Linked DNA regions of Homo sapiens. The protein of the gene in region 1 interacts with the protein of each later gene in a pairwise test. Each region holds a gene or a part of one and is shown in the gene's direction. Other genes may lie near its edges. The genes, in order: EVI2B, AQP3, AQP1 and GIMAP5.

Region 1 (9,915 bases):
CTCTTAGAAGGATTTCTTCTAAGTAATTACTGTGGAAGTCAGAAAATAAAGATATTTATCTCTTTTTCAGATTAGGCTTGTCTATATATTTTTCTACTTCTAATATTTAGTTTATTTCATTATGCATAAAGTCATAAAATTATATTAAATTTTTTTCACTGTCATATTTCATAAAATTAAAAAATTTCCCATCGATCCTTATGGTGTGTTTTTGTCATAGAATCCCATACTTTTTTTTTTTTTTTTTGAGATGGAGTCTCCCTCTGTCACCCAGGCTGGTGTGCAGCGGCACCATCTTGGCTCACAGGCTCACTGCAACCTCCGCCTCCCAGGGTCAAGAGATTCTTCTGCCTCAGCCTCCTGAGTAGCTGGGATTACAGGCACCCACCACCACGCCTGGCTAATTTTTTGTATTTTTAGTAGAAACGGGGTTTCACCATGTTGGTCAGGCTGGTCTTCAACTCCTGACCTCAAGTGATTGGCCCACCTCGGCCTCCCAAAGTGCTGGGATTACAGGCAGGAACCACTGCGCCTGGTCCCATACATGTTTTTAAAGGGTTAGTCCCAAATCTAAAGTTTACTAGTAGTGCCTGTGTTTTCCAGCTAATTCCCACATAATTCTACTTAGAAGGAAACTTTAATTCTGATTAAGTTTGAATTGAGAAACATAAATCTGATGCCTTTCAATGTCCAAGCTTTAAAAAAAAAATCACCACAAAATTTTCAGTAAACTTACTAAATATGACACTTTATAGAAACCATTCCAAATTCTTATAATAGTTTTCGTAGAATCAGGACTAAAATGGGTTTTCAGGTATTTCTTTCCTACCCTTTATCTAAGACTACCTACAAGTGTTATTTACGTGTAATTCCCACCAACTCACATCTCCTTCCTTCATAAAGCATTTCTATTTCATAACTTTTCTATGAAAGGCAGTATAGCACATACAGTGAAATGTGATAGAAAGAAACGGTTCTGGCACAAGATTAGCATGATTTTTGTATTAGTGCCACTACTTAGAGCTGTGATACTGCCAAGTTACCCAACATCGTGGTGTCTCAGTTTCCTTATCTGTAGGATGAAAAAACCACCACCTAGCTAATTAAAATAGGATACTGCTTAGCCTTTGGTGGGTGCTCAGTAAATGGTCACTATCATGATACAAGATGGTCATCAAATACTTCCTATTGTAGTTGAAGGTCAATTTCTCTTTCCACTTTTCCTCAAGATGCAGAATGGCTGGTTTTTTCTTTTACGGTTTCAAAACTTCACTAGTTAGAGATAATACTACTGCTAAATTTTAATCTATTATATTTGCATCACAACTTTTATTATATCAAAGTAATTGATACAGCTATCTATACTTGTCTTTTGTCTAGGATATGCTCTCCAAATCTTGATTCTCTTTAAAAGATAATGGCATACTTCCTAACATATCCAACTTAACAGCATCAATTTTAAATGCTGGACCCTTTAAGTACTTATGCATTATATTTATAAGAACATGTCTATGGCCGGGCTCGGTGGCTCATGCCTATAATTCCAGCACTTTGGGAGGCCAAGGTGGGTGGGTCACTTGAGTCCAGGAGTTCAAGGCAAGTCTGGGTGACATGGTGAAACCCCATGTCTACAAAAAATACAAAAATTAGTTGGGCGTGGTGTAGTGCACCTGCAGTTTCTAACTTCTTTAGGGAAGCTGAGGTGTGAGGAGGATCGCTTGAGCCCAGGAGGCAGAGGCTGCAGTGAGCTGAGATTGCACCACTGCACTGCAACCCGGGTGACAGAGTGAGACCCTGTCTCCAAACGGAAAAAAAAAAAAAAAAAGAACATGTCTTATACACGGGGACTCCTGCTTCACTGTAACTGTCTTTAAAATGTTTAAATTTATGTTTTTCTTTTTAAAATATTCTAAATATTCAGCAAAGAAAAAGAACCAAAATCACAGATTTAAACCTCAAAGTGCCAGCCTATAATAATGAGTAAAAACCGGCATATGAGGGCTGACAAATTTGCTTGAGCAGCAGACTAAGGGATTTCTGGAAAACTCTATATAAAACGTACACGGGTACATGGGTTCTTTGGAATAATTGCTAGGTATGCTTCTGGATAGTGTCAGGGAAAAAAAAAGGGAGAGGATGGTAAGGATACTCACAGCAGACAGGAGAGCCTGAAATGAAAGGTAAATGAATTTGAAAGGATGGTTCCTTCTGGTCCTCCATTTTAGAAAGCAAGCTCCTCTTTACTGTCTCCCTGCACTCACAAACACAGGCCAGCCACAACAGAGCAGCATTTTGCCGTTGCTTCTTTCATCTACTTCAATCATCTCCCCCCACCCCCAACTTCATTTTGCCTACTTCAATCATCTACACTGCCTTCTTGCTAATTATATAACCACTGCTTTTTTTTTCACCTGTTTATTAACTTTTCTTCTTTTCTGTATCTTCTCTAGTCAATTGACCTTCCTCTTTTCTGTTCGCTGCTTCCTAGAGTTTTTGTTTTTTCTCTTTTGTGTTATTTTGTATTTCTTTGCATTGCCTTTTATATTATTCTAAATCTCCTTTTTATTCCCCTGCCCAATATTGTTCTTTACCTACAGAAACAATGTTGGTACTTCAGGTACACACCACTTACATATTTTAAAATGTGTATGCTAAATAACCTTCCACACTGGTAGTAACGCTGGCCTCATTACCGCTGGGAAAAAAGTCAGTTTTTTCCACTACCATATTCCCTATTTATTCCTCTTTTAAATCTTTCTTCTCCTTCTCTGGACTACACTGAATTGCCATCATAGAATTCTAATACAGTTTCTAGTACTCTGATGTGGCAGATCCTAGGAGGATAAAAAGCTAACTGAAGAGTGGTAGAAAGTGTTAGGATAGGCAAAAAATGGAATTTGGTTTTAATATTGCCATAACCGTTAACTGACAAGTGAAAATCTCATACATGGAGGGTTCCACCAGCTTACTACTGACAGTAGAGGATAGGAGCCTATCAAAATTGATCTTACAAACTAACCTGGGTTTAAAATTATGTTCCTGTTTGGGCCCTGTCCTTCTCTAATGCCTTTTTCAGCTAACTGAAAAGAGGAACCGTATGGTTTCCTTATTTTAAGCAAAGTCACAAAAGAGGAAACATTTTTGGCTAAAGACAATTCATGGCTTATATTTTCTGATGCTTTGCATAGCATTAAAACAGATTTTTAAAATGAAGTTCTGAAGAGAATAACATTTTCTAAAGAAGTCCCCCCGCCTTTTTTTGTAATCTATAAGAATAATGGGTAGGAACTGCATGGATGATGACCATCCAGAGATTATTCAAATCCCTATATCTATGCCAAAAGTGTTCAAATTTTCCCTTTTAAATCTTTTGCAAAATGGATAAAAAGCAGAATTTATTAACTCAGATTTCACTGCCTCTGCTTATTTTCTGGTAGAAGTACTAGTAAAAAGCAAAAACTAAAATGGAAAGGAATCAAGAAGCCCAATACAGGTTAAATGTTTACTGTGCTCCTAATATATAAGGCATTAACTACAAAGAAATCAAAATATAAAAACATGAGGCAATAAAGGGTAGCAGAAAGAATGTATGCTTTGGAATCAGGTGGCCCTGGGTACAAACTCCCAATCTGTCACTTCGAGTGGTATAACATCAGGCAAACTGCTTAACTCATTTGACACTGTCTCTTTATCTGTAAATAAGGGATCCCTTTACCTTCCTTATAAAGTCATTTGAAGGTTCTGTGAAATAAAGTATGCAAAACTGGGATAGTACAACACATAATATGCTCTAGATAAGTATTTTTCTTTCTCCTTTCTGCCTTCTTCAAGGTTCTTTATAATCTTGTTCAAGGAAGTAGGTATAGGAAAATGTGAAAAGTAAACACAATTACTTAAGAGAATAGAAGTGTGAGTGAGATACATACATGAATTATGTAAGGAACCATAAAAACAATAAATGAGAGCTAGGGGGAATTCAGTAAATGACTGATCTGTTTGGGCTGTAGTCAGTCACAGAGAACTTGGGTTAAGAAGGGGAATTTAAACTGAGGTCTGAAAGATGAGGACAGATTCAGATATGCAGCCAGAAAGGGGAAGAGGCTAGGTCTGGAAGAAAAATAAAAAAAAAAGAACACCCTTGAGAAGGGTAAAAAACAGCATAGAAGTGTCTGTTTAGCAGGGAAAAATCGTGTGTTTAGAAAGTATGCAAGGTGGGAAAGGGATGCATTTGGCTGGATAAGAAGTTTCAGTCATGATACGTGAATCTGGACTGGTTAACTCAAGCCAGAAGGAAGAAAACTCAATTTAGAAGTTTTATCTTAACAGGCCAGGCGTGGTGGCTCATGCCTGTAATCCCAGCATTTTGGGAGGCTGAGGCGGACAGATCACTTGAGGTCAGGAGTTCGAGACCGGTCTGGACAACATGGTGAAACCCTGTCTCTACTAAAAATACAAAAATTAGCCAGGTGTGGTAGTGTATGCCTACTGTAGTCCCAGCTACTCGGGAGGATGAGGCACAAGAATCGCTTGAACCCAGGATGTAGAGGTTGCAGCGAGACAAGATCATGCCACTGCACTCCAGCCTGGGTGACAGAACGACTCTGTCTCCAAAAAAAAAAAGAAAAAGGAAGTTTTATCTTAACAGAAATTAAACCCTCAAGCAAGGCAGTAGTAACCTGATCATGCACACTTTTAAGATTAATTCAGCAGTGTGCAGGAGAGTTCAAAGGAGAACTGTTTTAAAATTCAGGCTTGAATTATTCGTATAGGGAAAAAAATCACATATCTTTTCTTCTACTAAAACAGGGCCATTTATCATCACTGTGTACCAAGTGGTAGAGGAGTAAGCAATGATATGCTGTTTAGATATGCTGAAAAGGTAATTTGTAAAACCTTTATTGCACCTTCCAACAGAACATCAAATCTCTCTAAATATAGGCTTATGAGTCAGAAGAACTATAGTTTCTAATCATGTATACCAATATCTAACACCCTAAGATTTTCTATTCCCTAATGTTAAGAGATAACCAAATAGTTGCCATTGTGTTTGATGATGTGCAAAACAAGTATATTATACCAAAAGTTGCAAATTGTCTCAGTAGAACTCTTCACTTTAGAGGAAAGGCAATTGAGAACAGGAAAGGTTAAGCAACTAGTTCTCATGGTTAGACAGGTAGTTAGATGGGAGAAGTAGAACTGAAACTTAACTCTCCAAGTTTTAGCATCTACCACATCCCAGAAAAAGCCCTATCTGCCAAACTTTCATATGTGCCTTATTTTCCTGTGCCCACATTGTTGCTCTCCCTGGCTGGAAACTTAATTAGTTTTTATAGACTTTTAAAATTCAGTTCAAGCTTTACTTCACTGAAGCCTTTCCAGGCTAGGTTAACTTCTCTGTACATCTCCTGCATACTTTTATGAGAAAGCTTATCAAATTATTGTAATTGGGCCAGGCGTGGTGGCTCACACCTGTAATCCCAGCACTTTGGGAGGCCAAGGCAGGCAGATCACCTGAGGTCAGTTCTCGAGCAGCCTGGCCAACACGGTGAAACCCCGTCTGTGCTAAAAATACAAAAATAGGCCAGGCGTGGTGATGTGTACCTGTAATCCCAGCTACTTGGAGGCTGAGAGAGGAGAATCAGTTGAACCTGGGAAGCGGAATTTGCAGTGAGCCCAGATTGTGCCACTACACTCCAGCCTGGGTGACAGAGTAAGACTGTCTTGAAAAAAAAAAAATTATTGTAATTATTTTTTAGCTTTTTTTCTTTCTTCTTTTTATTTAGAGATGGGATCTTACTATGTGGTCCATGCTGTTCTTGAACTCCTGGCCTCAAACGATCCTCCCATCTTGGCTTCCCAAAGTGCTGGGATTACAGGAATGAGCCACTACGCCTGGCCTTTACTGTTTGCTTCTATCACTAGAATCTGAAACACTTAAAGGCAGTGACTATCTTTTTTTTTTTTTTTTAATCTCCTAAACCTAGAACAGAGCTCCACACAAATGTGGCATTTACCAATAGATGAATGAAAGCAGCAGCAGGACTACTTGACCAACTGGATTGAATTTACTCCACCAGATTCAGAGATCACTCTAGGATTTTAAGCCTAAGACTCTGAGTTGAATGAAATTCTTTAAAAATATGCAATATTAACATAAGGCTACCACGCTACAGAGACACTAAGGATGCTTCAAAGATTACTAATAGACTCTGTGCCTAAGAAACTTAGTGGTACCATTAACAGATACAGAGAAGTTGGGAGAAGAGTCAGTTGTCAGTTGTGAGGGTAAAGATGAACTCCATTTTAAATATGTTGAATTTGCTGATAGTGGGAGATATTTATATCTATATCTATGTCTATCTATCTATATATATAAAATATGGAAAAATCCACCAAGAAGTCACACAAATAGAATTAGGACAAAGAAGATGTAGGCTGGAGGTACAGGTTTAGGAATTGTGGCATAAAGCTGAGAACTAAAATCTTACAGAATCAGGAACAAAGAAAAGTAGGTAAGGGTGAGGACAGAATATCAATTAACCATATTTAGGAGGCAGAAGAAAAAGAGCTAGTGAGAGTAACATGAAAGGAAGACTGATTACAAAAAGCTACTTGAATATTAGTGAAGGAACAGTAGTGTCTAATGTGGTCAAGGAGGGGAGGGGAGAGAAGAAATAAAGAACAATTAGATTAGGTAACAGATGATCACTGGTGTTCTTCAAGGCAGGAGAATCAATATATTTCTAGTAGAAAATGGTGAAAAAAGGTAGAGAACACATGGATCCAGCATATAGAGCCTATGCGTTTTGAGAAGTATGACTAAGTGAAGTACTGAAATATAATGAAGCTAGAGGGGCAGCAGAGCCAAGTACAGAACTTGTATTAATAAAAGAAGAGAGATCACTGCTTATGAGGTCCAAATGCTGTATGATGGGTTAGAGTATATCCAAGAGTTGTTACACCAAACCTACAGTGTATCAAGTCTAAATTAGGAATAATAACTACTAATCAACTACTACTAATTAGGAATAATGTCTACCTACTTTATGCCAGGAATCATAATGAAAAGTCAAATTTTTAACTAGACACCAATGACGCCTAACTGTCTTTCTCTTTCATTATAAACCCGCTATAGATAACGAGGAAATATTCTGAAATGGATCCCAAATATTTCATCTTAATTTTGTTTTGTGGACACCTGAACAATACATTTTTTTCAAAGACAGAGACAATTACAACAGAGAAGCAGTCACAGCCTACCTTATTCACATCATCAATGTCACAGGTATTGGCTAATTCTCAAAACACAACAGGGAATCCTTTGGGTCAACCAACACAATTCAGCGACACTTTTTCTGGACAATCAATATCACCTGCCAAAGTCACTGCTGGACAACCAACACCAGCTGTCTATACCTCTTCTGAAAAACCAGAAGCACATACTTCTGCTGGACAACCACTTGCCTACAACACCAAACAACCAACACCAATAGCCAACACCTCCTCCCAGCAAGCCGTGTTCACCTCTGCCAGACAACTACCATCTGCCCGTACTTCTACCACACAACCACCAAAGTCATTTGTCTATACTTTTACTCAACAATCATCATCTGTCCAGATCCCTTCTAGAAAACAAATAACTGTTCATAATCCATCCACACAACCAACATCAACTGTCAAAAATTCACCTAGGAGTACACCAGGATTTATCTTAGATACTACCAGTAACAAACAAACCCCACAAAAAAACAATTATAATTCAATAGCTGCCATACTAATTGGTGTACTTCTGACTTCTATGTTGGTAGCTATAATCATCATTGTACTTTGGAAATGCTTAAGGAAACCAGTTTTAAATGATCAAAATTGGGCAGGTAGATCTCCATTTGCTGATGGAGAAACCCCTGACATTTGTATGGATAACATCAGAGAAAATGAAATATCCACAAAACGTACATCAATCATTTCACTTACACCCTGGAAACCAAGCAAAAGCACACTTTTAGCAGATGACTTAGAAATTAAGTTGTTTGAATCAAGTGAAAACATTGAAGACTCCAACAACCCCAAAACAGAGAAAATAAAAGATCAAGTAAATGGTACATCAGAAGATAGTGCTGATGGTTCAACAGTTGGAACTGCTGTTTCTTCTTCAGATGATGCAGATCTGCCTCCACCACCTCCCCTTCTGGATTTGGAAGGACAGGAAAGTAACCAATCTGACAAACCCACAATGACAATTGTATCTCCTCTTCCAAATGATTCTACTAGTCTCCCTCCATCTCTGGACTGTCTCAATCAAGACTGTGGAGATCATAAATCTGAGATAATACAATCATTTCCACCGCTTGACTCACTTAACTTGCCCCTGCCACCAGTAGATTTTATGAAAAACCAAGAAGATTCCAACCTTGAGATCCAGTGTCAGGAGTTCTCTATTCCTCCCAACTCTGATCAAGATCTTAATGAATCCCTGCCACCTCCACCTGCAGAACTGTTATAAATATTACAACTTGCTTTTTAGCTGATCTTCCATCCTCAAATGACTCTTTTTTCTTTATATGTTAACATATATAAAATGGCAACTGATAGTCAATTTTGATTTTTATTCAGGAACTATCTGAAATCTGCTCAGAGCCTATGTGCATAGATGAAACTTTTTTTTAAAAAAAGTTATTTAACAGTAATCTATTTACTAATTATAGTACCTATCTTTAAAGTATAGTACATTTTACATATGTAAATGGTATGTTTCAATAATTTAAGAACTCTGAAACAATCTACATATACTTATTACCCAGTACAGTTTTTTTTCCCCTGAAAAGCTGTGTATAAAATTATGGTGAATAAACTTTTATGTTTCCATTTCAAAGACCAGGGTGGAGAGGAATAAGAGACTAAGTATATGCTTCAAGTTTTAAATTAATACCTCAAGTATTAAATAAATATTCCAAGTTTGTGGGAATGGGAGATTAAAATGCATGTTTGAGAATAGAGAAATTTTCTTCTTGGTTTCATTGCAAAGAGTAAAACAAACATGTTAAAACATCAACTGAAGGGTTGGGTTAGGAACATTTACCCTGAAAAAAATATGAGGATGCATCATAAAATGTAAATATTTTCCTACCATGTTGGGGGGGCACAAATTTTAAAACTGGCATCTTTACAAGTTTCTTCTTTATAAACACCCAAACAAAATCAAGTTTTATAAAGCAAAAAAAAGGAAAAGAAGACTATGGCTTCATTCTAAATACGGGTGACTTTGGGTGATTTTTTTTTCAGGAAAAGAGACTATCAAAACACAGATGATTCTCAACTTTTTACTAAACTTATACTTTCTGATGCTATCCACTCTTAAGTCACCTTTCTTACACAGAATTTCATCTTTATCCATTATCTGACAATTGGTAAGTCTGAGTTATTAGAGTAGGAATGGGCCCAATCTTTGTCAAAGTCAAGAGTGGTCATCAGCCTATACTTTTGGGGATGCCAGCCTTTGTCTGCAGAAGTGCTCCTTTGCCCAACAAGCACATATTCTTCCTCATTAGTCCCATCTAACTCCAGGGGGAAACAAGCACTTAGAATAAAATGGTAGCCCAGTCTTGGAGAACCACTCATAGTTCTGGGATTTTCAGAGTAGAACATAGCATTTATTCATAGCACTGGCATTCATGACATTAACAAAGCTCCATATTTAATAAGAACCAGTAGGGTTTTGGACACAGGAATTTTACATACAATGTTTTTCCTAAAATCTTTCAAGCCATCTTTACTGACCATTAATTTTTTAATCTATAGAAACACTTCCTTGAGCTTCTTACTTTTCCTGAATAAGCATGATACTTATTGTCATATTACATCTTTTGTCTTCCTCATTAAAAATTTTCTTTCATGTATTCTTCAAAGTTAGTACTT
Region 2 (6,849 bases), on another chromosome or scaffold:
CAGACTCAGATGGATGTGAGGTATTGGATATCAGTGAGAAGCAGAACTTCAAGGACTGCATGAACTGGAGGGGCAGGCCTGGGGATCCCTTTGTAGTGGGTGAGTGCCTGCCTGCCTACCTGCGTGTTGGGAGCCTAGGCCTGCAGTGGCAGAATCAGGGTTGGCTTTGGGGTGAGGAAAGCCCCTTTCTCTGAGATACCTGGTGTGAGGGCAGGGGGCGGTGCTGGCCGAGAACTCAGGGCAGGGGTTGGGGGAGGAAGAGGAAGATTAGCCCCAAGGTGGTGGAACTGGCTCTGACAGCTCCTCCCTCCAAGGCGTCCTGGGATGGAGCCAGGTCTGAGCCTTTGGCAGGCAAGGAGCTGCTGCCAGGGCCTCCCAAGCAGGGCAGGGCGCCTCAGACCCTCACGTGCCTGTCTCCCACCACCCCTCCTCACACATACACCTGCAATCTCTGATCTTTGCTCTCACCTGCCTGCACACCTTTGCCCCATGTCATTGCCGCTGGCTTCTCCGTTATCTCTTGGTCTTTCTGGGATGATAATCAAAATGCTTAACTATCCAGTACAACAGGCACTGACCCGTCAGAATAAACAAGGTCTGTAGCACAGGTCCTGGAAACTGCCTGCTCTGTGGGCATAAAACCTTTAGTTATGGGCAGGTGGGAGAGGAGACCAGGGCAAGGCATTGGAGCAGCTTTGAGGGACACTCAGGGGGCTCAGGGCAACAATGCTTTACAGCTGCTGCAGAAGTATTTTCAGGCTTGAACAAGGGGAACAGACATAGTACGTTCTTTTTCTTTTTTAAATAGAGACAAAGTCTCACTATGTTGCCCAGGCTGTTCTCAAACTCCTGGGTTCAAGATCCTCCCATCTCAGCCTCCAAAGTGCTGGGATTACAGGTGTGAGCCACCACAGCTGGCTCCAGTATGTTCTATATTTGTAGAACACCAGGGCTCTTAGTCTCTTTTAGTTCCCCCATTTTTGGCAGAAAGTTTAGAACCGATCTCCCCATTTCTACAGCCCTGGGTCCCGGGCTGGGGATAGTGAGAGGAGCCACACAGATCCCTGTCTGTAGGACCTCCAAATCTGAGTGGGGAATCTGGACCCCTGAGAGCAGAGAGGTCATGGGTGGAGAGAGGAGACGCTGGGACAGGGACAGGTAAAGGAAGGGGAGGTTGTTGAGGGGGACATGGTGAAGGCTGGGGCTCTGGCATCCTGGACTCAGGAGAAGTGGATTCAACCTCACTTCTGGTCTCCTCCCTATTTATTTATGCCGCCCATTGCCACCACTACCACCACCACATGAGCTTTTCTTTTCAACTCTTTTTTTTTTTTTTTTGAGATGGAGTCCCGCTCTGTCGCCCAGGCTGAAGTGCAGTGGCGCAATCTTGGCTCACTGCAACATCTGCCTCCCATTTTCAAGTGATTCTCCTGCCTCAGCCTCCCGAGTAGCTGGGATTACAGGCACCTGCCACCACGCCTGGCTAATTTTTGTACTTTTAGTAGAGATGGGGTTTCACTATGTTGGCCAGGCTGGTCTCAAACTCCTGACCTCAGGTGATCCACCCACCTCGGCCTACCAAAGTGCTGGGATTACAGTGTGAGCCACTGCACCGGGCCTACATGAGCTTTTCTTTGGGGCAGCTGGGGGATGAGTGAGAGGCTTCCCACCTTTATGGTCCAGGCCTGAAGGGCTGTGGAGAAACTTGTGCTAAGGTGAAAGCTGTTCCCCTACACCTACGCCTGCTGAAATTCAAGGAAAATCAGTGAAGATGGTTCAGTCATCTTCTAGGATCCCAGTCGCAGACCCTGCTTCCAGCCCTTTCCATAGGGCCCTCTCATATTAGAGTTGGGACAGTGGGGTGGGAAGGCATGTGTCCTTTTTCTGGAAAGTGCAATTACAGCAGAAGGGGTTTGGGCTGGGTTCCAGGAAGCGCCTCTAGTCCTCCCAGTGGTGGCGAGTGGGCATGTTGCTGGCTTCACCCCTTCCTTCTGGAGTGAGAGTTGCTGGTCCTCACCCTCCCTGCCTGTTCTTCTTCCTGACAGATGTTTGGCTGTGGCTCCGTGGCCCAGGTTGTGCTCAGCCGGGGCACCCACGGTGGTTTCCTCACCATCAACCTGGCCTTTGGCTTTGCTGTCACTCTGGGCATCCTCATCGCTGGCCAGGTCTCTGGTAAGGCCTTAACCCTGCCCCCAGCCCTTGGCCCTCAATAGCATTCCCACTAGGTGTCCTGGCATTCCTAAGGGCAGGTCACAGCTGTGGCCTCTGCTTTGGCCCCTTGGGAAAGGAGGGTGGAGAAGAAACTTGACACTTAGAACTTTCGACTCTCACCTTGGAATCAGAGATTATCAGCTGACCTGTTACATAGACCAACCGCCATCCTGTGCAAGAAACCCCTCTCTGCACCCCTTCTCAGGGGACCCTAGCCTGCCGACTGTGGCAGGCTGCAGCTAATAGGTCCCTTGTCCCCTCTGCCCAGGGGCCCACCTGAACCCTGCCGTGACCTTTGCCATGTGCTTCCTGGCTCGTGAGCCCTGGATCAAGCTGCCCATCTACACCCTGGCACAGACGCTGGGAGCCTTCTTGGGTGCTGGAATAGTTTTTGGGCTGTATTATGGTAAGCATTCCCCACCCTGTCCTCCTCCACTACCCCCGTCCCTCTGTTCAGGACCTGCTGGCACCAGGCCTTTTGATGACAGACGGCTAGGACCTGCCCAGGCCCCGGGCTCATGACTCACTCATTCACGCACAGGGTCAAGGTAGGGGGCACGAAGGGAAAGAAACAAGTTGGGCAATAACAGAGTCTCAGGCCCTCCACCCCACCCCACGCCACCCCCTCTGCCTGCTGCAATACAGCAGTATTGCTACTTACCCATAACTCATGGGAGGGTGGGGAGGGCACACCTGAGAGGGAAGTCTGGGCTCAGGCCTCTCCCCCGACTCACTGTGTGTCTAATCTGTCACCAGATGCAATCTGGCACTTCGCCGACAACCAGCTTTTTGTTTCGGGCCCCAATGGCACAGCCGGCATCTTTGCTACCTACCCCTCTGGACACTTGGATATGATCAATGGCTTCTTTGACCAGGTATGGGCTGGGGACGTGTGAGGGGAACGCAGGGAGGGGACCGAGTTGCCTTGGTAGCTCATGGGCTGGTTGGGGGACAGGACTCCTCGACTGTAGCAGGGTTTCTCCAATCTGTGGGGTAACCCGCATCAGAACATGGTGGCAAGTACTTACAAAACATGCGGCTCTCCAGCGGGTTCTTGTCACGCAGACATTCTAGCACCATTGCTTTCAGGAGAAGAGCATGGGCGGGCGCTGACAAGAGTTTAAGAGCTAGAGGGAAGACGGGGGATGGAAGGAGGGGTCAGAGAAAGGGAGGGAGCTGCAGCTCACCCTGTTCTCCCCACTCCCCAGTTCATAGGCACAGCCTCCCTTATCGTGTGTGTGCTGGCCATTGTTGACCCCTACAACAACCCCGTCCCCCGAGGCCTGGAGGCCTTCACCGTGGGCCTGGTGGTCCTGGTCATTGGCACCTCCATGGGCTTCAACTCCGGCTATGCCGTCAACCCTGCCCGGGACTTTGGCCCCCGCCTTTTTACAGCCCTTGCGGGCTGGGGCTCTGCAGTCTTCACGTGAGTACAGCCCCCACCCAGCTCACCCCAGCCTGCCTCTCCTCTGCCCTGCCCCCCATGTCCCTGACTATGAGTGTCTGTCCCCCCAGGACCGGCCAGCATTGGTGGTGGGTGCCCATCGTGTCCCCACTCCTGGGCTCCATTGCGGGTGTCTTCGTGTACCAGCTGATGATCGGCTGCCACCTGGAGCAGCCCCCACCCTCCAACGAGGAAGAGAATGTGAAGCTGGCCCATGTGAAGCACAAGGAGCAGATCTGAGTGGGCAGGGGCCATCTCCCCACTCCGCTGCCCTGGCCTTGAGCATCCACTGACTGTCCAAGGGCCACTCCCAAGAAGCCCCCTTCACGATCCACCCTTTCAGGCTAAGGAGCTCCCTATCTACCCTCACCCCACGAGACAGCCCCTTCAGGATTTCCACTGGACCTTGCCCAAATAGCACCTTAGGCCACTGCCCCTAAGCTGGGGTGGAACCGGAATTTGGGTCAATACATCCTTTTGTCTCCCAAGGGAAGAGAATGGGCAGCAGGTATGTGTGTGTGTGCATGTGTGTGCATGTGTGTGCATGTGTGTGCAGGGGTGTGTGTGTGTGGGGGGGGTTCCCAGATATTCAGGGCAAGGGACCAGTCGGAAGGGATTCTGGCTATTGGGGGAGCCCAGAGACAGGGGAAGGCAGCCTGTCCATCTGTGCATAAGGAGAGGAAAGTTCCAGGGTGTGTATGTTTCAGGGGCTTCACATGGAGGAGCTGCAGATAGATATGTGTTTCTGTGTATGTGTATGTCTGCCTTTTTTTCTAAGTGGGGGCTTCTACAGGCTTTTGGGAAGTAGGGTGGATGTGGGTAGGGCTGGGAGGAGGGGGCCACAGCTTAGGTTTGGAGCTCTGGATGTACATACATAAGTAGGAGCAGTGGGACGTGTTTCTGTCATAATGCAGGCATGAAGGGTGGAGTGAAGTCAGGTCATAAGTTTCATGTTTGCTTTTGTTTTGTTTTGTTTTTAATGTATGTAGCAGATGTTACAGTCTTAGGGATCCGGGATGGGAGACCCCACTTTAGAAAGGGTCGTCACTCCTTTAATCCTCTACTCAACAATGTACTCTTTTACTTTTATATTAAAAAAAATAAAATAAATATGTGCCTAAAACCTCCAGTTGTGCAAATATCTTTCTGCTTGCTCTGCTGCTTTTCTGGGGCCAGTTAAGGAGCTTCCGCATGCCCACACTGACCCAGGGTGCCCGGCTGAGTGTCTGATCTGGTCAGGTTACCCTGGGGGTCATACAGAGAGGTTAGAGAGCCTCTTCACCAAGGCTCTCAGTTTGAACTCAGTGGTCCCAAACTTTCCCCCAAGTTTCCGTCCTCATGGGTACCCCCAGCATAATGAATGGAATCTTCTTCCCAATCCCTGTACCCACACATCACCCCAGAAAGGCTTGAGCCCTATGCAGGGAAGATCTTGCTGCAGAGCTACCCAATGGGGAGAACTGCTGCCCAGGAGGTGGTGAGTTCCCTGTTCCTGGAGGAGACCCATCAGACTGGGAACCTGTATTGTCCTCCACAACCTGCAGCTATTCAGGCTCCATAACCTCCACCCAGACCTTGGCCACAGCCCCCCTGGCAGCCTCCCTGCCTCCAGGCCTGCCCCAGTCAGTCCACAAAGCAACCAGAGGGATCTCTTCAAAACCTCTGCTGAAAGTGCCCATCTGGAGACCATCCACAATGCTCCATCTGGCGTTCAGGACCTCCAGGTAGGGTCAGGAGCCTACCCCTCCTCTCACATGGCTCCATCCACCTCAGCCTACTTTATGTGTTTCTGTGTTTTTGTGTCTTCAGACTTTGCTCCAAAGTCCCAACTCACATCTTTGCTCATTAAAGTCCTCATGATCTGCTTTAACGCCTCTTCCTCCGGGAAGCCATCCCTGCTCTGCCTCACTCTTCCAGCAACTTCTAGTCAGCTGTCTTAAGTGCCAAGACCCGCAGTTGCGTTCACGCTCATCTCCCCTTCTGCTTCATTTCTTCAGTCATTTCTTCACTTCTACAGAGGCACCTCTGTGCCCAGTAAGGCAGGGGGTTGGAAGACTGACTCTGGCGCTCTGACTTGCCCAGAAAAGCAACGGGCTCGGCACACCTGAGAACAGGAAGCTTTTCTCATTTGCTTCTTCCTTACCATACCCTCCTCAAGTTTCATCAAGGGAAACTTCATGCAATACAAGGGAAGGCATCCCCTACCCAATCCCTCCTCTGAGCGAACCCCATGGGAGCCAGAGGATCCCTGGGTGTGGCAGGCGAATTGTGGTTTTTAGAAGCTAAGCCAGCTTTTGCTCTCCAGCCTTCACAGATGAGATCATGGTCCAGAGAGGGCGGGTGGCAAACACAGGGTCACACAGCCAAGAATCTGCCTACGGAGGTGAGGGCAGGAGAAGGCAATACCATTTTAGGTTTCTATCCCTTCTTTGTCCCCAGCTCCCAAGAGGCGTGTCTGGAATGCTGGAGGGACCTGAGCCAGAGGGAGTGTCCCCTTCCCAGGCCCTGGGGGGAGGAAGGGCAAACCTTGGGAGGGGAATACGGCTGCAGAGGGTCATTCCAGCCACACCAGTCCCACCTGGGCTGCCCTCACCTTGCTGTCCTCCCCAGCATGCCCCATGTCCTTCTGTCACCCATTTCTCTCAAATCCTGCTGCTGACCCTGACCAGTCAGCCTAGGGGGTGTTGGCAGCACTTTTGGTGCTGCCACCTGGCCCAGCAAGGATTCTCTAGCTGGGTGACCTTGGGGTAGTCATGTTCTTTTCCTGAACCTCCCTTATCTGTGAATTGGGAGATATTGAGAGGAGGAAATAATGGAAGATGATTCATGGAAAGGACTTAACACAGTGATTAGCAGATGGTAAATCCTCAATAAATGTCACCTCATGATTTTTCCTGCAGAACCAGAGATGGGGGTGGGGAGGCAGTGGAGGGAGGATGCTAAAGGCTGTTTTTTTTAAAGGTCATTGAATTCAATATCCTCTTCCTCCTCAGATTCCTTCCATGGATTCTGAATTTCCCGAGAAAGGGGAGGGAGGAAGTGTGAGGGCGATAGCGTGCTGTGTCCTGACTTCAGAAGGCTCTTGGGAGAGATGGAGGGGAGACAAGAGGGGCTCACACACAGGATGCAGGGCAAAGAAGCACGTGGCCGCAACCAAGGGAACGTGTTGCCTGGAGGGTCAGGCCATGTGAGAG
Region 3 (7,079 bases), on another chromosome or scaffold:
GCTGGGGCTCTCGCACCTGGTTAAGAACCAGAGGAGATGAGCTCTTTCTGGTCACATCTGTGAGGGATGGGGCTGGGAGGGTTCTCCAAGGCGGGAGCCACTTACAGCGATGACTCCATTAATCATCGGGGAAGGGCTGGTTTCAGGACTTCTGCCAGCTAGCAATTAGGCCAACCCTGGAGAGCAGAAGAGAGAGGAATAGAAGGAGCCACGAGCTTCCTGAGGGCTCAGATACAGAGGGACAGGGGCCTCACAGGTGCAAGTGTGGGTGGGCATCAGGACTAGCCGGGCTGGCCTCACCAGCCTCAACCCCATTCAGCCTGTCCTAACTCTGGGCAGGCTTCTGCCAGCAGCTCCACCCGCCGTCACTCCTTCTGCCTGTCCCCAGATCCTGCACACACAATGAGAAGAACCAAAACAAGAGTCACTACCACTGCCCCATCCCTCCTGCGTCGACAACTCTTTCCAAAAGCCCTGAGACGGCCCCTTTGGCCTTTGAACCTCCCAGCTGCTCTGGAGAGCAGGCACGGACAATGAGATCCATTTTGCAGATGGGAAGACTGAAGACCAGAGGGAATAGGCCATGCTCATGGTGCCAGAAAGTAGAAGAGTCAGAACCTGAACACAGGGCTTCTGCCTCTTTGGCCCAACCTTGGGACAGAAAGGGAACTGGGCATTGGCCAGAGGGCTGGCGGACCTAAGGGATGTAGCCCTGGGGTCCGCCAGGAAAGGCCCAAAGCTGGGGCTGCAAGGCAGGGGAGGGGATGTGAGTCATTCCCTGTAACCCAGGGCTGCAGACAAAGGCGGGAAGAGAATTGTTCTTGTAGGATGGCCTCAGGGTGGGGCTGGGAAAACCTCCAAGGTGTGCCCCCCTACCTTGGATTTTGCAAAATTCTCTATGGCCTTGGAGACACTCCCATATCCTGAGGATGGGAGCTGGGTAGTTTGTCTCCCAGCTGGGAAGTGTTTGGGTGCACCAGCCCTGCCTGGGAGAAGGCAGCCTAAGTGGCCTCAAGTGGGCATCTTTGCAAGTGAGCCTTTGCTGATGTGGTCCATCTCCCCTGTGTGAGTGCACTTAGCCCCTGGGACGGCCACAAAGCATAGTGGAAGGTGCTGGGGCTTCCTGGGGAGGGGTCCTCCGGGGGCAGCTGCATGGGGAGGGCCTTCATGACCTCACAGCAGCTTCCATTCCCTTCTCTTTCCATGAGTCATGTTTCTAAAAGTGGCCCAGGAGTAAGTGGCAGCCAGACGGTGGTGGCGGGGCCTATCTGGCCAGGCAGAGGGAGGGTGAGGCTGAGGCCAGCAGTGGGGAGGAAGAAGAGAGAAGGAGAGACAGGGAGGGCAGGGCCAGAAGCAATGGGAGACAGGCCTTGGACCAAGGAAAGAGACGGGGTGGAGAAGGAGAGAGAGAGGGTGGAGACAATAGGGAGGCAGGCACAGAGGAGAAAGAGGGGTGGAGGGAGCCAGGACCTCACCGAAGGCCTCCTCAGCCCTGGAATTTAGATGCAGTCGGGCATGGGGTGGAATGTTCTGGACTTTTGGGTATGAAGCCGTGTCCCCTGCTGGGCCTTCCCACCTTTTTGCATCTCTTCTCCTAGGAGTGCTCCTGACCATCACCTTCATGCCTGGGGCTCGCCCCTTGCCTCTGGTCTTGGTACCCCAGAATACCCTGGCCTGGATGCAGCTGGATGCAAAGGCCCCAGCTCACCCCAGGCCTCTCCAGCTTCTAGGCAGAGTGGGGCCTGGGTCTAGGCAGGTATTAGGGGCTGGGCTGGAGTTTCATTAACACAGGGGGTGGGTTCAAGGCCTGATTTCCACTACCTGCCGTGTAGGCTTGCCTGGGACCCTGTGATGGGCTCTGAAGGCCCATCTGAGGGTCCGCCCTTCATGCCTGGGCCTGGGAGGCCTGGGTATCCTTGGGGTCCTGGGACACAGTCCCTGCCTACCCTCCTCACCAGTCCTCACCACCTCTCTCCCCTGCAGCTGGCTGATGGTGTGAACTCGGGCCAGGGCCTGGGCATCGAGATCATCGGGACCCTCCAGCTGGTGCTATGCGTGCTGGCTACTACCGACCGGAGGCGCCGTGACCTTGGTGGCTCAGCCCCCCTTGCCATCGGCCTCTCTGTAGCCCTTGGACACCTCCTGGCTGTGAGTCAGGGGCCCTCCCAGATGGAGGTGGGGGAAGGGAGGGCGGGGGCTGGTGGGGTGCCCTGCCATGGGCAGCCAGTGGGACTCCCGACAGGGCTCTTGCCATTGGGTGGAGGATGGCGGGTCAGCGCTGGGGGCTGGGGGCAGGGTCCTGCCCTGGAGAGGAGCACAGGGACCTCCTGCCCAGCTTGGGGTCAGCACTCCTCTTTCCCTGGGTCTCATTGTCCCCCACCCTGATTGTTCTCTTTCTCCCTCCAACCTCTCCCTCCTCTCACTCTCTCTTCACCTATGACTCTCTGCCTTCGCCCCTCCCTCTGTTTCTTTCCCTCACAGATTGACTACACTGGCTGTGGGATTAACCCTGCTCGGTCCTTTGGCTCCGCGGTGATCACACACAACTTCAGCAACCACTGGGTAGGAGACCCACGGGGGGTGGGGTGGGAAGCTTTGGTGTCCCATGGTAAGCCTGACCCCACCCTCACAGTGTCCCTTCCTGTTCTGGAGGCTCTGGGAGACAGCCAGAGGACAGGAAATCAGGAAACTGAGGCCTGCCATGTAGAGGCAGGCTGGGGGTCACACTGCCAGCACTTTCAGGCCTAGTCTCTGCCCTCCCAGCTCGGCCCTGCCCCATGCTGCCTGGCCTCCAGGTCTTCCCAGCTGCGTGGTTAAAAGTGGGGCTCCAAATCCTGGCTCAGCCACTTTCGGGTTTAGCATGACCTTGCGCAGTGTGCTTGAGCTTTGGTTTCCTGAGCTGCGGAGGGGGATATGGTGGTGCCCACCTCTCAGGGTGGCCGAGAAGAGGAAAGGGCTCACTCCCCATCTGTAAACTGAGCTCAACACAGAGGAGGCGCTCAGTGGATTTTAGCTCTTATGGTTGTGGATGTGGATGTGCTAGGCCAGCTTTGCATTAGACAATGGTCTCTGGGGCCCTTCCAAAGCTGGGAGTGTGGGGGCAGTGGCCTTCCTCAAGAAGGGGCTGCTACTGCCCATGCCTGAGCTGGGCCCCACAGAGGCAAGGAGTTGACCCTACCACGTACTCTGGCCTGGGCCGGTTCTGAGGGGCACCGGAATCATGATGTTAGGATTTGGCTCTCCTACCTGCCTCCATCCCAGGTGGGAAAAACCTGTCCAACGGGGTGGTGGGCTGTGGGGTAACCTAGGGAACGCTTCCCAGGGGCTTTTGAGTGGAGCCCTCTGAACACACCTGCTCTGTTCCTAGATTTTCTGGGTGGGGCCATTCATCGGGGGAGCCCTGGCTGTACTCATCTACGACTTCATCCTGGCCCCACGCAGCAGTGACCTCACAGACCGCGTGAAGGTGTGGACCAGCGGCCAGGTGGAGGAGTATGACCTGGATGCCGACGACATCAACTCCAGGGTGGAGATGAAGCCCAAATAGAAGGGGTCTGGCCCGGGCATCCACGTAGGGGGCAGGGGCAGGGGCGGGCGGAGGGAGGGGAGGGGTGAAATCCATACTGTAGACACTCTGACAAGCTGGCCAAAGTCACTTCCCCAAGATCTGCCAGACCTGCATGGTCAAGCCTCTTATGGGGGTGTTTCTATCTCTTTCTTTCTCTTTCTGTTTCCTGGCCTCAGAGCTTCCTGGGGACCAAGATTTACCAATTCACCCACTCCCTTGAAGTTGTGGAGGAGGTGAAAGAAAGGGACCCACCTGCTAGTCGCCCCTCAGAGCATGATGGGAGGTGTGCCAGAAAGTCCCCCCTCGCCCCAAAGTTGCTCACCGACTCACCTGCGCAAGTGCCTGGGATTCTACCGTAATTGCTTTGTGCCTTTGGGCACGGCCCTCCTTCTTTTCCTAACATGCACCTTGCTCCCAATGGTGCTTGGAGGGGGAAGAGATCCCAGGAGGTGCAGTGGAGGGGGCAAGCTTTGCTCCTTCAGTTCTGCTTGCTCCCAAGCCCCTGACCCGCTCGGACTTACTGCCTGACCTTGGAATCGTCCCTATATCAGGGCCTGAGTGACCTCCTTCTGCAAAGTGGCAGGGACCGGCAGAGCTCTACAGGCCTGCAGCCCCTAAGTGCAAACACAGCATGGGTCCAGAAGACGTGGTCTAGACCAGGGCTGCTCTTTCCACTTGCCCTGTGTTCTTTCCCCAGGGGCATGACTGTCGCCACACGCCTCTGTGTACATGTGTGCAGAGCAGACAGGCTACAAAGCAGAGATCGACAGACAGCCAGGTAGTTGGAACTTTCTGTTCCCTATGGAGAGGCTTCCCTACACAGGGCCTGCTATTGCAGAATGAAGCCATTTAGAGGGTGAAGGAGAAATACCCATGTTACTTCTCTGAGTTTTAGTTGGTCTTTCCATCTATCACTGCATTATCTTGCTCATTCTTCAGTTCTCTACTCCCTCTTGTCAGTGTAGACACAGGTCACCATTATGCTGGTGTATGTTTATCAAAGAGCACTTGAGCTGTCTGAAGCCCAAAGCCTGAGGACAGAAAGACCCTGATGCAGGTCAGCCCATGGAGGCAGATGCCCTTGCTGGGCCTGGGGGTTTTCCAAGCCCTCAGCTGGTCCTGACCAGGATGGAGCAAGCTCTTCCCTTGCTCATGAGCTCCTGATCAGAGGCATTTGAGCAGCTGAATAACCTGCACAGGCTTGCTGTATGACCCCTGGCCACAGCCTTCCCTCTGCATTGACCTGGAGGGGAGAGGTCAGCCTTGACCTAATGAGGTAGCTATAGTTGCAGCCCAAGGACAGTTCAGAGATCAGGATCAGCTTTGAAGGCTGGATTCTATCTACATAAGTCCTTTCAATTCCACCAGGGCCAGAGCAGCTCCACCACTGTGCACTTAGCCATGATGGCAACAGAAACCAAGAGACACAATTACGCAGGTATTTAGAAGCAGAGGGACAACCAGAAGGCCCTTAACTATCACCAGTGCATCACATCTGCACACTCTCTTCTCCATTCCCTAGCAGGAACTTCTAGCTCATTTAACAGATAAAGAAACTGAGGCCCACGGTTTCAGCTAGACAATGATTTGGCCAGGCCTAGTAACCAAGGCCCTGTCTCTGGCTACTCCCTGGACCACGAGGCTGATTCCTCTCATTTCCAGCTTCTCAGTTTCTGCCTGGGCAATGGCCAGGGGCCAGGAGTGGGGAGAGTTGTGATGGAGGGGAGAGGGGTCACACCCACCCCCTGCCTGGTTCTAGGCTGCTGCACACCAAGGCCCTGCATCTGTCTGCTCTGCATATATGTCTCTTTGGAGTTGGAATTTCATTATATGTTAAGAAAATAAAGGAAAATGACTTGTAAGGTCCTTCAGGCTTCCTGTAGTTTTTCTTCTTTTGATGCTGTGTCCCCACAAATGTTTCTGGATTACTCCACAAGGAAATCAGGCCACTGCTAGAGACCCAGTCTGAGGAGGAGCCACTGCCTCCCCTTCTGCCTTCAAGACCCCTGATCTCAGGCAATGGATACAGCCACACCACAGAACCCCATCTGAGGGACACAGGGTCCTGCCCCTAGTAGGAGACTTCCAGAGCCCAGTGGGATGACTTTGGAGACCTGGGGGCAGGGAAAAGGGGCAGGCTTCTGATCAGTTTAAATGGACCGATGGGAGCCATTTCTGATTCCGGAGTATGGAAGGGATGGGGGAAAGCAGGGCTGAAGTCTAACAGCCCCCTCATCCCCTCTACCCTCCACAGAGCAGGGCCCAGGGAACACTAGGGATTGCTCCACCTTCCTCCCTCCCTCCACTCACATTTGCAACCCATCTGACCTGGGCTGGGCGTCTCATGGGAGACAGACTCACTCATCAGAGCCCAGTGCAGTTAGGGCTACTTCAGGCTGAGACTGGGACCCTGGCTCCTGACCCTCCCGACGTGCACACACACTTAGTAGTGCCTGATAATAGGGAACAGGTATCACCACGGCAGTGGGCTGAGGCAGGAAATAGTGTATGGACAGGTCCTGGGGCCCCAGCACTGCTCCTGGGAGACACATGGTTCCTGTCCCCTCTGTGGAATGCCTGGCTGATGGTGATATAAGGGGGGCTGGGTCTCAGGGAGCCAGGGGCTAGGCATCCGCAATGAAGACTGAGGCCATGTTGATGGAACAGGGTTTCTAATTTAAGTGTGCCCTGGGTCACTAGGCTGTCTAAGTCCCTGCAAATCAGTGCATCACATCTGCACACTCTTTTCCGTTCCCTTGCAAGAACTTCTAGCCCATTTAATAGATAAGGAAGCTTATCTCCCAGCTTAAGAGGGGCATATAAATGGCAGAGTGCCAGCCAAGCTATGGGAATTGGGTATGGGCCAGCCCGCTGCATCCCAGGCCTGCCTGTGAGGGTGTGCCGAGGCTATCTCTCACAGCCCTTCTCAGCTTGTCTCCTTAATTTGTCCCATTCTTCTTGGCCTGAAGCCCTCCCAATCACCACTATGGGCCCAGCCACGCCACCTCAACTCCTACTCATTCACTTCTACCCCCACCCCCATTTCACCCCCGCTCCATGGCACAGCCTTCTTTAGTGTATTGCTTAGATATGACTTTTAGAATCCTAGAGCCACGAGGCAGGGCCTGAATAAGCCATTAGGGAACTGGTATTTCTTGAGCACTTACCATGTGTGAAGAATCTCTCTGAGATTTTGCATACATTCGCTCTAATCTTTACAACATCCTTAGAAGGTAGAGATACGTGTCCCCATTTGTAGAAGACGCCAGGGCCCCTGAAGATGAAATGATTTGCCGTAGGCCACACAGCAGGTTGGTGGCAGAATTGGGATTTGAACCTATTCTGCTTGGCTTCAAAGATCAGGCTCTTTGCACGATGTGGTCTGGGCCGGTTTTGTCATGATTCCTGCTAAGTTAAGCTCTGGGCTAGCCAGGAAGCCGGACTGCATGAAGAAGGCAGCCACTCCTGCAGAGTGGGCATGGGGAGGGGGAAGGGAGGAGAAGGGCCAGCC
Region 4 (6,644 bases), on another chromosome or scaffold:
GCAGCATTGTACACATGTTCCAAGAGGTTTGTTGACTTTTTTGGAAAAGTCTCTTTTTCCACCTGTGGAATCAAGGACAATACACAGCAAAAGGAGCCATTTCCTGATGCTAGCTCCATTGTAAATATGTGACCTTTGGCAGGTCATTTAATGCTCAGTTTCCTTGCATTTTAATAGAAATTTTAAGATCAGTTTTGATCACATCACAGGGAATTTGAGAGAGCAATTAAAATAAGAAGGATGAAATAACTTTGAAAATTATAAATGTATTCACAGAGGCTTATTACAATTATGATGTTCATAATCAATATCATTACCACTGTCATCTTGACCCTTACCACATCATTATGTTGATTCCAAACCTCAGAAAACGTCATCTAAAGTAGAGAGGATGTCAGGGAACTGGTGCTATTTTAGCAAAAGCCAGAAGCATAATTTACCAGAGACGAGAACAGGGTGTGGGAGAGAGGAAAATGTTCTTCTCTGGGCTTAAGAAAAAGAAAGAAAGGAGAGAGGGGAGGGTAAAGAGGAAAGGAGGAAGAAAAGAAAGAAGGGAAAGGGAGGGAGGCAGGAAGCTGTCTTAATACATTCTGATAATATAAAAATAGATTTCTTGACCTAAAGAAGGCCAAGAAAATCCACTGAATGAATAGAAAAATGTGGAAAAGATAGAAATCACAGAAGTTATTAAAAATTGAAGTTTATAAATTACCAAAATAGCAAATAAACCATGAAAACTGTTTTTAATTTAATGATAATCAGTAAAATGTAAGTTTAAGCCAATTAAGACATCCTTATTTATGCCCATAAGGATGACAGGAAATTAAAAGTGTAATATTACTAAGTGCCTGTGAAGATTTGGGGACTTCTTATAAATGGGTGGTGCAAATAGGAGTTAACTCAACTCCCTGGGAGTCATATTTGGCAATAACCAGTCACGTGGAAAATGTACATCCCCAATACTGTTGCACAATGCTGGAAACCCGGAGCAGGCAATGAGTTGTTCTTGAATTCGGCCTGAAGTTGATTCTTTCTCTTCAATCACCTCACTACCTCCTCTCCACCAACCGTCAGGGTGGGAAAGCGGTCATACCGGTCCCCCTATACCATTTCCTCTCACGTCAGTTCTTCGTGTCCCTGATCCCCACTTCCATCCTCCCACTGGACAGTACCTTGTAATTTCCTCTCCGCCGCTGGAATGTCCATTTGACACAAAGACTTTCTGGGACTGGAAGTTTCCACTACTTCAAATAAACCAATCTTATTTACAGCAAGGCAATTTTTTTTTCTCTATTCTGGTAAGTTTGTTACTTTAATTTCAATTTTTTTAATGCCTACTCTTTGTTCCATAGAAGAATGCTTTCTCCATTTCATGCCTTTCTGGTTGGGGGAGATAATCAACTGATTTGCTTCAAAATATTTCCTGATTTTCTGTAAGTTGAGGGGAGGGAAGTAATCGTGCACTATTTTAGCATAACCTAACATCTAACATCACCTGCTTTGTTTAAAGTTATTTACAGATGTTTCAAAGTAAAGTATGAGTTAGAAAATTAGGGATGGAAATGGCTCATTTGAGAATGATTATTCTTAGATGTCTGAATTGAGGTGCCCTCAGGCTCTACCAGCTCCCAAACGTACATCTGCTTTTTATCCTTTTCCTGTTTTTATTCCAGGAGAGAATGGGAGGATTCCAGAGGGGCAAATATGGAACTATGGCTGAAGGTAAGAAAGTCTTGAAGTTCTCAAGAGCCCCAGACACTTGGGAGAATCACAATTCTCTCCCCATCTACCCCCATCTAAAACACAGTGGCAGAAACCCATTCATTTTAAATGAAGAAGATAAAGGCAACTATCATCACGTGTGTGTTATCAAACCATCACACACACACACAGACACACACACACACCATAGTGTGATGCTCTCCCTGCATCAGGTATGTGGGAAATGTGGAAAGGAAACCAAGTCATAGGTTGAAGGGTCTGGAAGCAAATGGTGAATATGTTTTCTCTTTCTTTGTCTGCTGACAGCTCAAAAAGAAAAGGTCCCCATAGGGATTTAGTCATTGTGCTTGCTACAAAACACCACAGAATAACTTAAGAAAACGAAGAACCAACCCAGAGTGGGAGAAATAAAATAATAGATTTTTAAGAGCCTAAAATGCACTTCGAATTCATTTGGGCTCTAGAAATCCACAGGTTCTCCCCTCTTCGTGCCTGAAGATTTTCGCTCCTGCCACAGTGTCACCCTCTCCAACACCACTTCTGCTATAATTTTGTGTGCTTCAATCAGCCACATAGATGAGCTTTTCAACACACATGCTTCTATTGAGCTTATCTTCCACCTTTTTGAGCCATCCACCCTAGGGTCATCTCCCAGACGCTGCCCTAACATTAACTACAACCTATGTCATCTCAATTTCAAACATTTCACTCCCTATCCAGAGGGCACAGACCCAGGGACAGGCAGCTGACCCCCGGCAGTGGGTCACTATAGATTTGCCAGTGGAGACCTCCTTGACCCTCAAGACTTGGATGAATGTGTGGAGTGTGTCTATACAAGTGTGCCTGGAAATGTGTGGGTGAAAGAGAAGTAATTGGATTTTCTCACTTGTAACTACTAATCCCCTGCCTCTTTCTAATAATTCTCCATGGAGCTGGCCTAAACACCACGCAGGGGAAAACACAAGGACCATTTTCTTTCAGGAAAGCTCTATTTGCCACAATCCAGATGAAGTGCTTAAAGCATCCCCTTAATGCAACAGTTCTAATTCCTGGCTGTGGATCCAAGCATGGGCTTCCAATGGGGCTTTCTACATGCAAGATTCACCTATAGTTGTATGCACACTTTTATGTACACATAAATATGTCTGTCATTCTGGGGAGGACGTTCATAGCTTTCATGAGATAACCATGAACAATGACCTAACAGTCTTAAGAATCATTAACTTAGTAAGATACAAAACTTCGTTTTCTACAGGTAGATCAGAAGATAACTTGTCTGCAACACCACCGGCATTGAGGATTATCCTAGTGGGCAAAACAGGCTGCGGGAAAAGTGCCACAGGGAACAGCATCCTTGGCCAGCCCGTGTTTGAGTCCAAGCTGAGGGCCCAGTCAGTGACCAGGACGTGCCAGGTGAAAACAGGAACATGGAACGGGAGGAAAGTCCTGGTGGTTGACACGCCCTCCATCTTTGAGTCACAGGCCGATACCCAAGAGCTGTACAAGAACATCGGGGACTGCTACCTGCTCTCTGCCCCGGGGCCCCACGTCCTGCTTCTGGTGATCCAGCTGGGGCGTTTCACTGCTCAGGACACAGTGGCCATCAGGAAGGTGAAAGAGGTCTTTGGGACAGGGGCCATGAGACATGTGGTCATCCTCTTCACCCACAAAGAGGACTTAGGGGGCCAGGCCCTGGATGACTATGTAGCAAACACGGACAACTGCAGCCTGAAAGACCTGGTGCGGGAGTGTGAGAGAAGGTACTGTGCCTTCAACAACTGGGGCTCTGTGGAGGAGCAGAGGCAGCAGCAGGCAGAGCTCCTGGCTGTGATTGAGAGGCTGGGGAGGGAGCGAGAGGGCTCCTTCCACAGCAATGACCTCTTCTTGGATGCCCAGCTGCTCCAAAGAACTGGAGCTGGGGCCTGCCAGGAAGACTACAGGCAGTACCAGGCCAAAGTGGAATGGCAGGTGGAGAAGCACAAGCAAGAGCTGAGGGAGAACGAGAGTAACTGGGCATACAAGGCGCTCCTCAGAGTCAAACACTTGATGCTTTTGCATTATGAGATTTTTGTTTTTCTATTGTTGTGCAGCATACTTTTTTTCATTATTTTTCTGTTCATCTTTCATTACATTTAAATCTCTGGACCCTGGAGCACTTCTAATGTATCACCCCATGGAGTCATTGTTCTAATAATCACCAATTCAGACTCAGATCCTCGTGGTCTATGGAGCATGCTGCTTGCTGTCTGTGCAGCTCCCATTTCCCCTTCTTCCTGATAGACTTGGAGCTGTGTGCCTCCACTCCAAGGCTGCCTGCCTGCTGTAAACACTATTCCACTCTGTCTGCCAACAACTGCTTCAGGAATGGGCCTGAGATCCCATGCAGGTCCCTGAGAAGTGAGTAAAAGTCCGCAGAGGTGGGGATGGAAGATCTCTCCTTAGATAGAACCTGTCTTCCTCCCTGGCATTGTGGGGTCTGGGCGTGACACTGGGACTCTCAGCAGCTTTGTGCTGCCAACCTGAGATTGAAGGCAGTGCCTCAGAGCAGCACAGAGAGTTGGGGCCCCCTGAGCCCTGAGCCACCAGCCCTGCAGCCTGCCCTATCTCCGCATTTCCAGTTGTATTAGCCAATAGATTTCCTACTTATTTAAGCTATTTGAGCTCCGGGTCTCTTCTACCTGCATTCTAAAACATTCAAAGTAATAAAAATTTCTCCACATTCCTTTTTATCCTTTAAATCTGTTGGAACTTCCCAGTCCACATGCTTCCTTTGAGCAAGTGGCATCTAGAATAAAGGAACAGGGTTGGCTTTTCTTGTTCCTAAAATTAGGAAGAACCTCCTGCTCCTACTGAAGTGCCTGCCACATAGTGGACATTCCCTGAACTCTGAGTAAAGCAAAACACTTTCAGATGGATGGATTGCATTGACGAATGGGAGTGGGAGAGGGTCAAGGAAATGGGGTGCCCTGTACGCAGGGCTTTCTCTGTGCTTTCTTCTCAGTTTGGCCAGGGGCCCAAAAGAAACACAGCTCACATTTCAATGCTCTGCAAGGAATCACTTTGGCAAATGTTCACACATGAGAAAGGTTAAGCAAACTCTTTCTCCTTCTCCACTGTAAAATGTCCTTGGATCAACTCTCCAGCTCTATTTCTTTGGAAGTCAATGTCCACAGGGTGGGGGTGGGGGACAGGTTGTTGACTGGGTACCAGGCAATCCTGCTCACCATGAAAGCGATTCCTTGTTAGTAGAGGGAGTGTGGACTGGGCGACCCAGGAATGGACCATCCCCACACTGGAAGGAAGCTACTCTGGCAGCGCCGCTCTGTAATGCTTTCTTAAGATCATGGCTATGTCAATCAAGAGTGCCTCCCTGGAGGGAGGGAGAGCCCAGACAACATCTACTGGACCAGTTTCCAGAGGCTTCAAGGTCACCACACTTATATGCAGTCTTTGTCTCCCTTGGCTCAGCCCACTCCTCCTCTGCAGGGCTGCTGCAGTGAAGGGAACCACATTTCAAAGAGTCATCCAGGACAGAGGTGAGTTCCCTCCCGATGTTGCCATCAGAGACCACACCGCAGGACACCTCCTCACCTCTCCCGAATCTGTCCTGTCCATCCCCACTGCTATTGCTGGAGTGCAGGTGCTGATTTCCTCCGAATGTTATCCCTGTCCCCAGGCTTATACTTATACAACCCAGCTGCCACCTGATTTTCCCAAGACACACCAACCTGCTCAGAAGCCTCCAGGGAGGATTCCAGAAGGCACCCTTGAATCCTAAGAATGAGGCCCAGACCCCCCCTCCCCACCCAGCCCCAGTCCCCTGTGCACCCCTCCTCCCATGTGCTGACTCCCATCCCCTTCCTTAATCACGTGTCCCTCAGCCTCCAGTGACTTCCCCAAGAGGCAAGGATGTTCCCAGTCAGCTTAGCATCACCCTGTCTAGGAAGCTGCTGCAGAGCCTGCCGTGGTCTCCTTCTTGCTGACATTGCTTCCAAAAGAAACCTTCTCCTACAGCCCCACTTTTATGTGCTTTCATCCCTCCACCCCACTACCCCTCCTGGGGAGCAGAAGCCTGTTATTTTTTATCTTACACTCCTGGTGCCAGGCATTGACCCTGACCCTCAGTACTCACATCATAAATGTCTGTGAAGCTGGACTGAATTAAGTAAGTCAAGCTCAGTTGGAGCAGTTTGGGAACAATGAATTGAGGAGGTGGTCCTCAGTCTGAGAACTCAGGGTTCCCAGGGTTTGGGGAGCTGGCACACAACATACTCCCTGCACATGTTTGGAATCAGTTCTGTGCCAGACGATGCAGGAGTCAGTGCCATGGAGCCAGACGTGGAGCTTCATTGCCAGCAGCAGTGCTGGAGGATGCTGCTAAGGGGCATCACAGCTGAGCACCTCAGACTCACCCCAGAGTAGTCACTTGCCCATCCAGCCATGGCCTGTCCGGGATGGCTGCAGGTCTCCCTTACCGAACACAAAGAAGAAGGTGTGGTGGAGGGACCCAGGGACTTCCTCTTCATCTGATTACCTGTTTCCACTGAATTCCCGATCTGCCCATACTTGAGCCCCATGTCTGCCTTCTTCTCTTTGCTGCTTGAGATGGGGAACACCACCCTTTCCTCAAATTCCCATGGACATCACACGTCACTGTCCTGGATGGTACTGAGTTTCGGGTTAGAGATATCGCATTGCAGTTCAGCCCAGCCAACAATGGGAAATCAGTGAAACAAATGACAGCCCTCGGCCCAAATCTGGCCCACCACCTGTTTTGTACAGCTGTGAGCTAAGAAGGGTGTTTACATTTCCAAATGGTTGAAAAAATCAGAAGAAAAATAACATTTCATCTTCACACATGAAAACTGCATGAAATTCAGAATTCAGTGCTCATGAAGTTCTAGGGGACACAGCCTTGCACA

Evidence for each region.
Region 2: the proteins of EVI2B (region 1) and AQP3 interact in binary tests that used the Homo sapiens proteins (3 or more experiments, as listed by UniProt).
Region 3: the proteins of EVI2B (region 1) and AQP1 interact in binary tests that used the Homo sapiens proteins (3 or more experiments, as listed by UniProt).
Region 4: the proteins of EVI2B (region 1) and GIMAP5 interact in binary tests that used the Homo sapiens proteins (3 or more experiments, as listed by UniProt).

Annotation. Positions count from the first base shown.
Region 1 is NC_000017.11:31,302,851-31,312,765, reverse strand, and holds the end of EVI2B (protein EVI2B precursor), read left to right. Parts: intron 1-7,135; 5' UTR 7,136-7,156; coding exon 7,157-8,503; 3' UTR 8,504-8,996; downstream 8,997-9,915. UniProt on the Homo sapiens protein: Required for granulocyte differentiation and functionality of hematopoietic progenitor cells through the control of cell cycle progression and survival of hematopoietic progenitor cells.
Region 2 is NC_000009.12:33,439,089-33,445,937, reverse strand, and holds the end of AQP3 (aquaporin-3), read left to right. Parts: intron 1-2,045; coding exon 2,046-2,172; intron 2,173-2,479; coding exon 2,480-2,617; coding exon of another isoform or gene 2,618-2,733; exon of another isoform or gene 2,734-2,759; intron 2,760-2,967; coding exon 2,968-3,086; intron 3,087-3,419; coding exon 3,420-3,637; intron 3,638-3,726; coding exon 3,727-3,895; coding exon of another isoform or gene 3,896-3,948; 3' UTR 3,949-4,778; downstream 4,779-6,849. UniProt on the Homo sapiens protein: Aquaglyceroporins form homotetrameric transmembrane channels, with each monomer independently mediating glycerol and water transport across the plasma membrane along their osmotic gradient. Could also be permeable to urea.
Region 3 is NC_000007.14:30,920,083-30,927,161, forward strand, and holds the end of AQP1 (aquaporin-1), read left to right. Parts: intron 1-1,983; coding exon 1,984-2,148; intron 2,149-2,481; coding exon 2,482-2,562; intron 2,563-3,367; coding exon 3,368-3,547; 3' UTR 3,548-3,744; coding exon of another isoform or gene 3,745-3,927; 3' UTR 3,928-5,434; downstream 5,435-7,079. UniProt on the Homo sapiens protein: Forms a water channel that facilitates the transport of water across cell membranes, playing a crucial role in water homeostasis in various tissues.
Region 4 is NC_000007.14:150,739,206-150,745,849, forward strand, and holds the end of GIMAP5 (GTPase IMAP family member 5), read left to right. Parts: intron 1-1,673; coding exon of another isoform or gene 1,674-1,679; coding exon 1,680-1,722; intron 1,723-2,977; coding exon 2,978-3,858; 3' UTR 3,859-4,441; downstream 4,442-6,644. Other genes in the region: GIMAP1-GIMAP5 protein, read left to right, coding at 1,674-1,722, 2,978-3,858. UniProt on the Homo sapiens protein: Plays a role in T lymphocyte development and the optimal generation of CD4/CD8 double-positive thymocytes. Inhibitor of GSK3A, possibly by sequestering GSK3A in cytoplasmic vesicles and impairing its translocation to the nucleus.